Linked DNA regions of Homo sapiens. The protein of the gene in region 1 purifies or fractionates together with the protein of each later gene. This does not show direct contact. Each region holds a gene or a part of one and is shown in the gene's direction. Other genes may lie near its edges.

Evidence for each region. The genes of interacting proteins can lie anywhere in the genome.
Region 2: the proteins of DEFB123 (region 1) and CTBS purify together in Homo sapiens (affinity purification with mass spectrometry; one large-scale study listed by BioGRID and IntAct). This does not show direct contact.
Region 3: the proteins of DEFB123 (region 1) and TMEM67 purify together in Homo sapiens (affinity purification with mass spectrometry; one large-scale study listed by BioGRID and IntAct). This does not show direct contact.
Region 4: the proteins of DEFB123 (region 1) and CACNA2D1 purify together in Homo sapiens (affinity purification with mass spectrometry; one large-scale study listed by BioGRID and IntAct). This does not show direct contact.

Annotation. Positions count from the first base shown.
Region 1 is NC_000020.11:31,439,491-31,443,431, forward strand, and holds the start of DEFB123 (beta-defensin 123 precursor), read left to right. Parts: upstream 1-1,141; 5' UTR 1,142-1,208; coding exon 1,209-1,266; intron 1,267-3,941. UniProt on the Homo sapiens protein: Has antibacterial activity.
Region 2 is NC_000001.11:84,564,441-84,567,940, reverse strand, and holds part of CTBS (di-N-acetylchitobiase precursor), read left to right. Parts: intron 1-561; exon of another isoform or gene 562-1,928; coding exon 1,929-2,100; intron 2,101-3,500. UniProt on the Homo sapiens protein: Involved in the degradation of asparagine-linked glycoproteins. Hydrolyze of N-acetyl-beta-D-glucosamine (1-4)N-acetylglucosamine chitobiose core from the reducing end of the bond, it requires prior cleavage by glycosylasparaginase.
Region 3 is NC_000008.11:93,778,894-93,782,393, forward strand, and holds part of TMEM67 (meckelin isoform 1 precursor), read left to right. Parts: intron 1-1,699; coding exon 1,700-1,854; intron 1,855-1,980; coding exon 1,981-2,089; intron 2,090-2,764; coding exon 2,765-2,851; intron 2,852-3,500. UniProt on the Homo sapiens protein: Required for ciliary structure and function. Part of the tectonic-like complex which is required for tissue-specific ciliogenesis and may regulate ciliary membrane composition.
Region 4 is NC_000007.14:81,961,278-81,964,777, reverse strand, and holds part of CACNA2D1 (voltage-dependent calcium channel subunit alpha-2/delta-1 isoform 1 preproprotein), read left to right. Parts: intron 1-418; coding exon 419-571; intron 572-669; coding exon 670-722; intron 723-2,282; coding exon 2,283-2,338; intron 2,339-2,754; coding exon 2,755-2,884; intron 2,885-3,500. UniProt on the Homo sapiens protein: The alpha-2/delta subunit of voltage-dependent calcium channels regulates calcium current density and activation/inactivation kinetics of the calcium channel. Plays an important role in excitation-contraction coupling.

The DNA of each region.
Region 1 (3,941 bases):
TTTCCACTGAGTCCCTTCCTAGCCAGTGTCTCTTCTTCTCTTCATTGTAAGGGTTTTAGAAAGAATTATTTACACTTGCTGACCTCACTGTTTCACTTACCTTTCAGTTTTCAACCCCATTGACTGTTTTCTGCCCCTACAGAAATGGCTTTCACTGTTGTTGTTGTTGTTGTTGTTTTTCCCTTGTAATCCCTCTGTATGCTATTATACCCTTGACATCTGTTTCAAGCAGGGTCCAGTCAGAGAAACAGTAACTACAGGATGCAGCTACCACCCGAGGGCTGAGGGAACTAAAGGAAAGAGATGCCTTTTCTTTTCTTTTCTGAGACAGAGTCTTGCTCTGTCGCCCAGTCGGGAGTGCAGTGGCGCGATCTCGGCTCACCACAGCCTCCCCAGGTTCAAGCGATTATCTTGCCTCAGCCTCCCAAGTAGCTGGGATTATAGGCATGCACCACCACACCTGGCTACTTTTTGTATTTGTAGTAGAGATGGGGTTTCACCATGTTGGCCAGGCTGGTCTCGAACTCCTGACCTCAAGTGATCCACCCACCTTGGCCTCCCAAACTGCTGGGATTACAGGCGTGAGCCACCGTGCCCGGCCAAGAATGAGTTTTCAAAACCCGAGTTCAGAAGAAGGATTCTGAGTGGTTGGTTCTCAGATCTCTGAGGAAGCGGAAGGATGACCCTAGGGGGAGGGCCACCGCATGTTAGAACCCAGCAGGGGGCTGTGACAGACAGGCTGGTGCTCGGAGCTTCATCTCTTTCTGCCGTTTTCCTCTCAGTTTTTGCTCTGGTTATGTCATATTTCTCATTTTCAACACCAACATGAGCCTTTGTACAGACATTCCTCCACCTGGAACCCCATTTCAGCTCATCTACCTGTTGCTTTGTATTTATTCTTCAAAACTCTGCCGTCTTCCCTGACCTTCCGGAGCCGGTGTTTGTGGCGCCTCCTGCTGGTCACTGGGTTCAGGCAGTTTGGAGCTGGGTGGAAGGAACGGGTAGTATATTAAGTCTTGGGCCCTGGACCTTGTTGGCTGTCCTCTCCCTGCTGACCTAAATGACAAAGGGAGGGGTGTCCAGTCAGAGTGTGAGGGCTGTACCCGTGGGCAGCTGAGGGAGTGCGAGCCACAGGCCAGGCACTCTCCTTCTCCCATTAGCTCAGCCGTGGCATCGGACTTGCAGCTTCATTTTGGGCTGCCTTAGCCATGAAGCTCCTTTTGCTGACTTTGACTGTGCTGCTGCTCTTATCCCAGCTGACTCCAGGTAACCTGAACCTCCTTAAGGAAGGGGCAGGGCTTAGAGACTAAGGCCTGGTCAGAGAATCCCAAGGGCTAGAAGGATGGGCTGCAGGTTGTCATCTAGCACCACGTATAGGAGGCAGGAGGCGCCTCACCAGCAGCAGGTGCCAGCTGATAGATGACAACTACAACATCCAGAGCTGCTCTCTCAGCGGCTCCATCCCTCCTCTTCCTGCCCAGCTCCAGGGAGCATGTGGGGGTGGCCTAGTGTGTGAGGAGGAGTGGGAGGGGTGAGCAAGAGAAGCAGGAAAGAGGAGAGGCAGGTATGGCCCTTTTGCAAAATAGTCCCCAGAATGAACGAAGCTTTGTGAAGATCACAGCTACCTTAATGGGAGAGAAAGCTCATTTGTACTTAGCTGTCTCTGTGCCAGACTCTGCGCTGGAAGCTAGGACCACGGAGATAAATGACATGGTGCCAGGGGAACTAACTGGAGGAGACAGTTAAATAGCATTTATAACCCAGGGTGACACGGCTGTGGCAGTGGGAAACCAGGGGGCTGGGTACACATGGTCCAGCCCAGGCTGAGGGAAAGGAGAGTCCTCCTGGAGGGATATCCTGAGTCCTAAAAAGTGAGTCGAAAATAGAAAAGGAAGGAGAGGGGAAAGCAGAAGGGTGTCCCAGGCAGAGAGGTCAGCCTATGCAAAGGTTGGATGCGGGAGAGAGCATGGGAGTGTCGGGGACCTGCATAACATGGAGGGGTGGGTTAGGAGAGAGGCGGGGGTAAAGCTGAGGAAGCATTCAAGCTCCAGGTCTCAGTGGGCCTCAAATGCCAGGTGAGGGACCCATGGGAAGGTTTAAACAGAGAAAGACCCTGGTCAGACCTACCACCCACCAATTCCAGCATGAGCCACCTATCCCTTCCTGCTCATCTGGCAGAAGTTTCCACCCACCCTAAGGCTGTCGGCTAACCTTTCTACAGAGTCAGAAACGTGTGAATTTCCTAAACAAGCTGACCTCCGTCCTTGTGTCTTCCTGAGGCCCTAAAACACCACTCACCTGGAGTAGGGAGGAAAGCCCAGACCCCGGGTTAAAACCTGCCCCATCATTTTCTGACTCTGTGAGCCCCAACAAGAAGCTCAGCTGCTCAGAGTATCAATTTCCTCATTTCTCAAACTGCAATAACATCAAGTGTGTAATAATATCAGGTTGAGGGAACAACATTGAACACACTGAAATTTTGGTCTGCAAAAGAAATATGGCTTCTCTATTTTCTCTAACTCACCAAACTTTCCCAGGAACTTCCATCCTGACTGTGGGAGTTAGTGGTGGGAGGAGCAGGACTACAGAGATAAATGACATGGCACCAGGGGAGCAAACTAGGGGAGACAGTTAAATAGCACTTACAACCCAGGGTGACAAGGCACATAGGGGCTGGGCCTGAACTCAGCAGTTCAATATTTGTCTTTTCTGTTTTAAAATGATTTCTAAGCTAATTCAATCTCTTTTGAATAAGTGTTGAGTCTTTCAGCATGTCTCTTTCTTCCATCACCCTTTCTCTTTCCTGGGATAGTATCTGGTTACAGGGAAAAGTAACTTGATATGTCATCAAATAATTAATTGCTTCATTCAGTAAATACAGTTGAATGGATTTCTTGTTCCAAGCACTGTGATGGGTGCTAGAGGTAGAACTGGGAACAAAACAAGATAAGCAAAATCTCTGTCCTCTTGGAGCTTACCTTCTACTGGAGGACCCAAAGAATTTGAAAAATAAATGAAACATATGGTATGTCAGATAATGAGTACAGTGAGCAGAATAGGCAGGAAAGGAAATAGTGAACACCAGGGGAAGGGGAAGGTCATTTGCTTTTTTTTTTTTTTTTTTTTTGGAGACAGGGTCTTGCTCTGTCACCCAGGCTGGAGTGCTGGAGTGTAGAGGCACGATCTTAGCTCACTGCAACCTCCACCTCCCGGATTCAAGCAGTTTTCATGCCTCAGCCTCCTAAGTAACTGGGATTACAGGCGCCTGCAACCACGCCTGGCAAATTTTTGTATTTTTAGTAGGATACGGTTTGGCCATGTTGCCCAGGCTGGTCTTGAATCCCTGACCTCAAGCAATCTGCTTGCCTCAGCCTCCCAAAGTGCTGGGATTACAGGCTTGAGCCACCATGCCCGGTCTTTGCCATTTTTAAGGGGTTGTTCATGGAATGTCTCACTGTGACCTGAGGGAACAACCGGTGTGAGCATGTGGCTATGGAGGGAAGGAAATTCAAGCTGGGGAAAACAGCAAGTGCAAGGGTCCTGGGATAGGAACATAAGGAGGTGGGGTCAGGTCCTGTGCTGGACCCTTACTGACTTCTGGGATCACGACCCTCGTTGGATGTGGTTAGTAGCGTCCTGCTAGCACTTACTACTGGATTTCATGACTGATGAAATCTCTCAGCCCTTTTGGGGTCCCCACTGACTCGACCCTTCATCTCAGCCAGATCTTCCATCTGGTCCCCAAGTTAAGGCTGTTCACACCCTCCCTTACTGCCTTCTGCACTAGGGGTGTACTCTTGGCAGGTCCCTCACTGGTTTTCCTATCTCAGCCAGAGACAAGGGAACCTGGGGACCTTCTGGGTCTATTTTATTCAACAGAGAGCTGACAGTGATGCTCAGCCACTTCCCTTAGCCATTTCTAATCCCCCTTCAGGTAGCAC
Region 2 (3,500 bases), on another chromosome or scaffold:
AAGATGAGTAAGGACTGCTAACTGAACAATACAGTATCAAGGGATTTAGTTTGGATTTGGATGATGACATAATCCTAAATCAGCAGGTGTACAATAAATACATATTAAATGAATTAATTAATGGAAAGGAAGGGGCAGAACAACTGTGAGATGCCACCCAAAGGGAGACGTGAGGTTAGATTTTGGAAGTAAGGGAAGAAAGAATCAGAAAATGGCCCCAAGGTTTTTAAACTGGTAACCAACAAAAAATGACTAGATAATCTAGAGGGGGGAATGAGTTTTGGGAATAAGATAATAACTTTGGTTTACAGAATTGTGGTCACAGAATTAAAGAGCTACAAATAAATGCCTTGAAGAGTTCTTTCTACACCCTCATTTTTATAGATGGGAAAAATTCAGATGCTTTAATTGACTTAGCAGTGATACAGACCTAACTATAAGATAGCTGACACTAGCACCCAAGTCTTTTGCTTTCTTGTCTAATATAATAATAGTACCATCTCAAAAATATGAGATTAACTGTGAGAGAAAATCCTGGTGAAAACACTCTTACAAAATGGATTGGAAATTTACTTGCTTAGAGGTAGTCATTTATTTTTCTCTATTACTATAATATACCTCTCATTTTGTAATAAGAGGCAGTGATAAAATAGGAACAAATATGTAATAATTTTATTTCATAACTTATTTTGTTGGAAAACTACTGAGCAAAGCTTATAATTATAAAGTGCTAATATTCACGGAATTATAAAGGGAACTTTGAAGAAGTCCTAAAAAGAGTTTTGCTAGAATAAATTGTTCAAAGTATAAAAATGTTACCTAAAGTATCTCAGTTTTTAAAATAATCAGTGTTTATTGAGTGCCTAATTAAGGGGGGAAAACAACCTTTAATGAAGTTTTAGAACATTTGTACATGTATAAAATAAGGCTAATTAATATTTGGTTAAGGCAATAAACATAAAGAGACACATTCTTGTTGAAGGCTGGCTCACTATTCAAAATGAAAGATAAGGCTGGGTGTGGTGGCTCACGCCTGTAAGCACTTTGGGAGGCTGAGATCGGCAGATCAGCTGAGGTCAGGAGTTTGAGACCAGCCTGGGCAACATGGCAAAACCCTGTCTCTACTAAAAATACAAAAAAATTAGCTGGGCGTGGTGGCGCATGCCTGTAATCCCAGCTATGTGGGAGGCTGAGGCAGGAGAATCACTTGAACCCAGGAGGCAGAGGTTGCAGTGAGCTGAGATTGCGCCACTGCACTCCACCCTGGGTGACAGAGCAAGACTCCATCCCCCCCAAAAAAGAAAGATAATACTCAACATTTATTTGAATATTTCCGTAAAATAAGATCATTTAAATGATTTATTCAACATTTTGACTTGATTAATCTATACCTGTAGGCCGTAAGACACCACTATTGTCTTAACTGTAATATTGGGCCAAATCTACCATATAAGGTGATTGTGAATCAGGCTGAAACTCCCAACCCAGTCAGGTTGTGCCAACAGGTGACATATTTAACCTGCACAATATTTTAAAAACTTTTGTATTTGAATTCTTTTAGTGTGCCTTTACTCTCTAGTTGCTCAGGGGCATCACCATACCCTGTTGTCATTATACCTGCTTCTTTTAATCAGCTGAGGTACCAGCCTAGCGTTTGAAGACATTTTGAGTTTGAAGGCCATCTTCTATATAGTGTCTTGCTCCTGGTCATTGTATGTCCAAATATATGTCTGACTCAGTCAAGTGTAAGCAAAAAATATTTCTTAGAATGGTTCAAGTTCTATGTGTGTCAAACCCTACATTCATATACTGTAAGCAGTTCCTTTTCCTTGTGTAGTATAAGGTAAAAAATATATATAATTTTAAAAATCTGACGTAATATGCACACGTGATCATATTACATAAAATAGTAAGATTTTTTTCCACAGGTAACCTTTGATGTAGCTTGGTCTCCAAAGAACATAGACAGAAGATGCTATAATTATACTGGAATCGCAGATGCTTGTGACTTCCTCTTTGTGATGTCTTATGATGAACAAAGTCAGATCTGGTCAGAATGTATTGCAGCAGCCAATGCTCCCTATAATCAGACATTAACTGGTAAGACTCTAAACATGGTCATTTATTAATAATATTAATAATATTCTATAAATTAAAATATTAAGATGTTTTTAGTATTTCTAAGTTATATGTATACGTTTTTCAATTGTAAGGCTTGCTTCAAACATGTAAAAATCACTTAATTGAAAGCTTTAAAGTTTACAAAAAGTTTTAAAGTTTTGATTTTCACTTAATTCTTCCAACAATCTTGTGGTATAGGTATATTTCTAGATGAGATAAAAAGAATTAACTGCTCATGATTGCATAACTATTAAGTATTATATAGTTGGGGCTTAATCAGGTATTCTCATTTCTGGTCTGATATTCTTGTCATGAAATCACATGCTTATCTAGAATTTGACAGGATATTTTTGTTGAAATAACCAGTGTTAAATAATAGCAAAGATAGATATGGTTGGGCACCTTCATTGCATGATTAATAGGATAGGCATTAACTTCTTTTAGTATCTGTGATAAATTAAAAATTATATTCCTATTAGAATTTGAGTACTTTTGACCTGTCATTCATTTGATGTAGGCTTTGCATTATCCTCTTCAAAGTTTGGATTGGTTTGTATTCCATCAGTCAACTAAATAAAAGATTGCTTGTTCTTTTGTTTTTTTTTTTAATTTTTATTTTTTTGAGCAGGGTCTCACTCCATCACCCAGGCTGGAGTGCAGTGGCACGATCAGGGCTCACTGCAGCCTCAACCTCACAAGCTCAGCCTTAGCCTCCTGAGTAGCTGGGACTACGGGTGCATGCCACCATGCCCAGCTAATATTTTCATTTTTTTCTTTTTCTGAGACAGAGTCTTGCTTTGTTGCCCAGGCTGGAGTGCAGTGGCACTATGATAGCCCACTGTAACCTCGACCTCCTGGGCTTAAGTGATCCCCCAACCTCAGCCCCCTGAGTAGCTGGGTATACAGGCATGCACCACCATGCCCAGCTAATTTAAAAAAGATTTTTTTTTTAAGGAGATGGAGTCATACTATGTTGCCCAGGCTGGCCGCAAGTGATCCTCCCACCTCAGCCTCCCAGAGAGCTTCAATTACAGGCATGAGCCATTGTGCCTAGCCACATACCTATTTAAAGTTGAAAAATAACTTATTCTGTTAAAATTACGAAGTAATTATTAATTGAGGGTTCCCAAACTGTGTTTCAGGCAAGACATTATAATTATGTTCTATCAATAAAAGGTTCAAGCCTTGGGAGGCTGAGGTGGGAAGATCACATGAGGCCGAAGTTCAAGCCAGCCTGAGCAACATAGGGATACTTTGTATCATAAATAAATCAACAACCAAACTAAATAAACCAATATGTTTGGGAACTGATACATACCCCACCCCATTTTTGGTTATTTAATAGTACATAATAACATTAAAGGCTCTAAAAAGTAATA
Region 3 (3,500 bases), on another chromosome or scaffold:
TTGGCCTGCCTTGCTAGGTTGGGGAAGTTCTCCTGGATAATATCCTGAAGAGTGTCTTCCAACTTGGTTCCATTTTCCCCATCACTTTCAGGTACACCAATCAAACATAGATTTGGTCTTTTCACATAGTCCCATATTTCTTGGAGGCTTTGCTCATTTCTTTTTAGTCTTTTTTCTCTAACCTTGTCGTCTCGCTTTATTTCATTAATTTGATCTTCAATTACTGATACCCTTTCTTCCACTTGACCAAATCGGCTACTGAAGCTTGTGCATGCATCACATAGTTCTTGTGCCATGTCTTTTAGCTCCATCAGGTCATTTAAGGTCTTCTCTACACTGTTTATTCTAGTTAGCCATTTGTCTAATCTTTTTTCAAGGTTTTTAGCTTCCTTCCGACGGGTTCGAACATCCTCCTTTAGCTCAGAGAAGTTTGTTATTACCGACCTTCTGAAGCGTACTTCTGTCAGTTTGTCAAAGTCATTCTCCATCCAGCTTTGTTCTGTTGCTGGTGAGGAGCTGCATTCCTTTGGAAGAGAGGAGGCACTCTGGTTTTTAGAATTTTCAGCTTTTCTGCTCTGGTTTCTCCCCATCTTTATGGTTTTACCTACCTTTGGTCTTTGATGTTGGTGACCTACAGATGGGGTTTTGATGTGGATGGGGTTTTGATGTGGATGTCCTTTTTGTTGATGTTGATGCTATTCCTTTCTATTTGTTAGTTTTCCTTCTAACAGGTCCCTCAGCTGCAGGTCTGTTGGAGTTTGCTAGAGGTCCACTCCAGACGCTGTTTTCCTGGATATTACCAGCGGAGGTTGTAGAACAGCAAATATTGCTGCCTGATCCTTCCTCTGGAAGCTTCGTCCCAGAGGGGCGCCCACCTGTATGAGGTGTCTGTCGGCCCCTACTGGGAGGTGTCTCCCAGTTAGGCTACACAGGGTCAGGGATCCACTTGAGGAGGCAGTCTATCCATTCTCTGAGCTCAAACGCTGTGCTGGGAGAACCACTGCTCTCTTCAGAGCTGTCAGACAGGGATGTTTAACTCTGCAGAAGTTTCTGGTGCCTTTTGTTCAGCTATGCCCTGCTGCCAGAGGTGGAGTCAACAGAGGCAGCAGGCCTTGCTGAACTGCGGTGGGCTCCACCCAGTTGGAGCTTCCCCGGCTGCTTTGTTTTCCTACTCAAGCCTCAGCAATGGCAGACACCCCTCCCCCTGCCAGCCTGCTGCCTGGCAGGTTGATCTCAGCTGTGCTAGCAGTGAGCAAGGCTCTGTAGGCGTGGGACCCACCGAGCCAGGCGTGGGATGTAATCTGGTGTGCCGTTTGCTAAGACCATTGGAAAAGCGCAGTGTTTAGGTGGAGGTGTCCCATTTTTCCAGGTACAGTCTGTCACGGCTTCCCTTGGCTAGGAAAGGGAAATCCCCCAACCCCTTGCGCTTCCTGGGTGAGGTGATGCCCCACCCTGCTTCAGCTTGCCCTCCATGGGCTGCACCCACTGTCCAACCAGTCCCAATGAGATGAACCAGGTATCTCAGTTGGAAATGCAGAAATCACCTGCCTTCTGCGTTGATTATGCTGGGAGCTGCAGACCGGAGCTGTTCCTACTCGGCCATCTTGGAACAGACCTGCACAAAGTAAAATTTTTATATCAACTTTTGCATAGACTGTTCAGGTTCATGTTACTTTTCTTTGCCATTGTTCTGTTGTAGGTATATGCCAATCTAACATCTTGTCAAGCTCTTGGAAATATGTGTGTGATGAACATGAATTCTTACGACTTTGCCACATTTGATGCATGTGGACTATTTCAGTTTATCTTTGAAAATACTGCTGGACTGAGCACTGTTCATTCTATTTCATTTTGGTAAGGATATTTTGATTGATGAAATGTTATTTTGACTGAATTCAGTGCAGTTATTAATATATTCACAAATACTAATAATAAGAAATATTTATTCTCCATTATTAAAACAGTTGTAACTGTTTATAGGAGACAGAATCTTCCTTGGCTGTTTTATGGAGACCAGTTAGGATTAGCACCTCAAGTGCTCAGTTCTACCTCTCTTCCTACAAATTTCAGTTTTAAAGGAGAAAACCAGGTAAAAGTGTCTAATATCATTAGAGGATAACTACATTTTGATTTATAATTTTAAAAGGTAATAAAGTTACAATTCTTGCCTTTTTAGGTTGTTGGTACAAACTCAGTTACTAAACTAAATATAAATGTCAACAACTCATAAGAACTAAATAGTATAGAGTTTAGCTATCTTACTGAATATGTGGATACTTCTGGATTGTGTGGTTATGGCAAGAAGTTGTACTTGTAGGGTTGGGAAGAGCAGTTTTCATCACCAAATGCAAAAAATCTCTGTCCTGTTTTTTCCACACCTTAAAGAAGTGCTTCCAAAGATTGATTGGGGCTCTGTGACATTGCTCAGCACTTCACAGGGCCAAATTCCTACCTGTAACTTTTTGACCTTCCAGAATGAGGAGATACTATTCTCCCACACTGCCTCCTATTTAACAGGTTCAAAAGGAGGCTATCTGTCACTAGTGCTGCCTCTCAATTCTAGAATAATAATTTTCATGCAAAAAACCAGTCTAATTCTTTCAGGTCTATTTAGTCATAGAAATAGATTAATTGAACCTCAAAATAAAGATAATTGAATGTAATTTTTCAACAAAAAAGATCAGTCAACAATGAAAATTTCTTTATAGGATATTGTATTACTTTCAGAGTATTTGACCTGATTTTGCTCGTTTTCTTTAATCAGAATACAAAACTGAAGTTTGTTGCTGCTTCCTATGATATAAGAGGAAATTTTCTCAAGTGGCAAACTTTAGAAGGAGGTGTTTTACAGGTAAGCATGATTCTAGTTAAAGAATTAATAACATGCATTATTTTTGCCTGAGACAAAGCCAAGAGGAAAAGATTATTGTATGAATAAAGCATCAGTTACATACTACAGTTGATTTTTTTTCTGATGCTTTAAATTAGACTTTCTTAAGTTTTTTGTTTGTTTGTTTGTTTGTTTGTTTTTTCTTTTTTTTTTGAGATGGAGTCTCGCTTTCTTAACCAGGCTGGAGTGCAGTGGCGCGATCTCAGCTCACTACAAGCTCCGCCTTGCGGGTTCACGCCATTCTCCTGCTTCAGCTGGGAGCTGGAACTACAGGCGACTGCCACCACGTCCAGCTAATTTTTATGTACTTTTAGTAGAGACGGGATTTCACCATGTTAGCCAGGATGGTCTTGATCTCCTGACCTCGTGATCCGCCCTTCTTGGCCTCCCAAAGCGCTGGGATTGCAGGCATGAGCCACCATGCCTGGCTAAGTTTTATTTCTTTAAAGTTATGACTTTCATTTATAACAGATGTTCCCTTAACTTTTCATATCCTTGATACATTAAATAAGTATTATGTAGAGCATATATCCATGTTCGGGTTTGAGAACTCTTGAGTATAAGAATAGAAAACATTTGTGAGATTTATCTGTTGTATTATTTTGCTGCA
Region 4 (3,500 bases), on another chromosome or scaffold:
AATTTCTGGTAGACAACACAGTATTATTAACTACAGTCCTCTGTTGTATGTTGAATCTCTAGGCTTATGCATTCTACATAACTGCTTCTTTGTACCCTTCCACTTATACCTCTCCATTCCCCGGCCCTGTTTTATTCATCTGGGAAGCATTTGATTGTGATTTAATGCTTAGTAATGTGTGTCCATTCTTTCCACAAATAAAATATCACACAGCCCCACTGAGTAATGAGAACACTTACTCTCATTTTAGTTTGTTCACAGTGTCATATACACGTTTCTCATTTGCTTTTGTTTTTAAGCTCCTCAGTTGTAGTTCAGTTTCTTTGTATTATTTCTTTTCACTGTAGTGGTGATTCCCGTGTTCATTTTTGGCTTACATTTTAAGTGCACGTTGCTTTATGATTTTTTTCTTCACCAGATTGGAAGATTTTTTGGAGAGATTGATCCCAGCTTGATGAGACACCTGGTTAATATATCAGTTTATGCTTTTAACAAATCTTATGATTATCAGTCAGTATGTGAGCCCGGTGCTGCACCAAAACAAGGAGCAGGACATCGCTCAGCATATGTGGTCAGTAATATCCACGGTCTAATCAATTCTCAAGGGGTACTCAAGTGTCCTCAGTATCAAGTAGACTACTGAAATGACCTTATTATTTTATTTTATAGCCATCAGTAGCAGACATATTACAAATTGGCTGGTGGGCCACTGCTGCTGCCTGGTAAGTCAAAATTTTAGTTTTATTGGTAATGAAAGAAAGAAGTTGTAAAATAAAAAAGCATCTGATGAAAATATGGATTTAGGGGATATTCAAATTTTTATTAAGGGAGTTAAGTTGTTTTCATTCTTTACATCACCTATTGGTAATATTTATAGTTTTTCCTAAGTGAACACTATAAAGTTACCATTATTCAGTTTCTCATATGAAAACAATGTTATGCGGATGTAAACTTCAGCCTCTTTAGAGTCTTCCTTCCTCTACATATCTATTGAAACTCTTTTCATTTGTATTAAATATTTATAAAAACATTACACTAATTTCTTTTAGGTGTATTGATCTGTAAGAAGTTACAATTTGTCTTTAATATCCCAGTTGGATGTCTACATGCATCAAATTCATGGCATGATGGCAACCTTCTACCTCTTTACTATTGATACAAGGACTAGTATTGTTTTAGGGGCATCAGGTTGCCGACATGGATCTAATTATTTCTTTTCACTGATGCTACCTTCCAAACCTCCCTCAACCCTCACCTGTAGACCCTACAACCTATGAAAATAAGACATTTAAATGGTCAATTGTGGCACTGTGGAAGGTCTGGAAGATCACATTTCTCATTGTTTAGTTGTAACTAAACCTCCTGTTACGTCTGGAATCCATGATCTCCCTCTTCCCTCTCTCCCTTCTAATCTTTTTTTTTGTATCATCACACTGTATTGTTAGCCCTATTCCATGTAGATTAATGTACAATATTCATTTGATGTTGAGGTTTGCCCAGCTAAAATTAAGTGACTATATCATTAAAGCAGCAAAAAAGATTTTAAAATTTTGAGAGTTTTTAAAAGATTTAGAAAATTCTGTTTTATTCTGAAAAATGGTATTTTCTGATGTGATTTTATATATTAATTTCAGTAGGCTTTTAAAATTTCATCATGACCCTGAAATACTTGGCTTTATCCTATATCCCCTCCCACCCCCACTTTTTTTTAAACTAAATTCAGTTCTAGAAATTTGGCTCAGTTGTCAGTTACTGTAAAACTGAAATGTGCTGTATCTCTCTAATATGTATATTTTGTTTCATGAAAGTTACATTACATATTTACAAATATATTCTATATTACAAAGTAAATAGTTAACAAATTCAAACCCATGGTATAAACAGCATTGTTTCTTTGTTGGGGGCGGGGGAAACCCAAAAAACAAATGGTTTTAAAAACTAAAATAAGGAGACGTAATGAATGTGAAAACCTACGCGCTGAAACAGACATTCTCCCTCTTAGAGTGAACTCTTCTGCTTGATAACATTGCCTGTTAGGTTTCTTCACACATTGTGTCCCACTTGATCCTGAACAAGATCTGAACACTTCTGATTTCATGACTTCTTTTACACATTACAAAAAGGTTACAATGTGTTATATAATTTTGAAAATACTTAAATAAAAACACTCCAAGACTTTCTTTCCCAAAAAGATAAAGGGAAACAGTATTTATGTGTATGGGTACATGTAAAAACACATTTTTTCCCTAGATGTTTATTTTTTTTTTATTTGAAAAATTCAGGTCTATTCTACAGCAGTTTCTCTTGAGTTTGACCTTTCCACGACTCCTTGAGGCAGGTATGTAAATGCTCAGACCTTGTCATTGCCATAACAATAAAAATTTTCTTTTGGGATGTGCTTGAAGTTCAACAAATTCAGAGAATATTTGTGTGAAAGAGAAAACAGGTCACCCATCTCATAATTTTAGAGCTAGAAACTTTTTGTCCAACCTTTCCTAATGTTTTAGAAATTACCTAGGTCACACGGGCCTGATCTCATAGCCATCTTGTATTTGAATTCATTTATTCTCTTGATATTTATCAGGCATCTATTACGGGCTGCCACGATATTACACAGCAGTAAACAAGCCAGTCGAGGGGTCCTGGTCTTATACGTTTATTTTGCTCTGTGAGAAGTGAAGACTCGAGGGGAGTGACTACAGAGACCCCTCCTAATGGTGTTCTTTGTTTTTACACCGTCCCCCGCCACCCAAGTTGAGATGGAGGATGATGACTTCACGGCCTCCCTGTCCAAGCAGAGCTGCATTACTGAACAAACCCAGTATTTCTTCGATAACGACAGTAAATCATTCAGTGGTGTATTAGACTGTGGAAACTGTTCCAGGTAATTTATTTATTTCAGGAGTAGTCCTATTTCATTAAGAAATTGTATATACTGTTATAATCATTAAGAAATTGTATATACTGTTATAATCATTACAGAAAAAACTGAAAATTGTGTTGGAGTCAGAGATGTGAGTAATTGTTTTAAGCTGAAAATGTCAGCAATCTTTAGTTTCTCTGTAGACTTTTAAAATTTGTAATTTTTAAAATTCTAACTTTGATAAGCTGTTATTTCTTCAACTATAATAATTACATGATCAAGATAATTCCTTTCTCTTTAGGCAGAACATAGAGAAATTTGATTATATTTTAACTTTTTTTCCTAAAATAACCCATATTAAAAATTTCTAATATAAAGTTATTAAATATATTAGTAATTTAAATAATTCTAAGCCAAATATTATTTATTTTTCTATATAGTAACTAAACAGATTTACAAAAAAAAAGTCTTGTTTTGTTTTGTTTTTACTTCTAGTCTTCTCTGACTTGAAGAACTGAATGTTATCTTTATTTGAATTTGAAGGAACTGGGAAAAATACAGTTTTTTTAGGTCATGGTTAATGTTAGTCAGTATCCATAAAATATCTTTTAAAAAGAGATGGAGAATTTAATTTTGT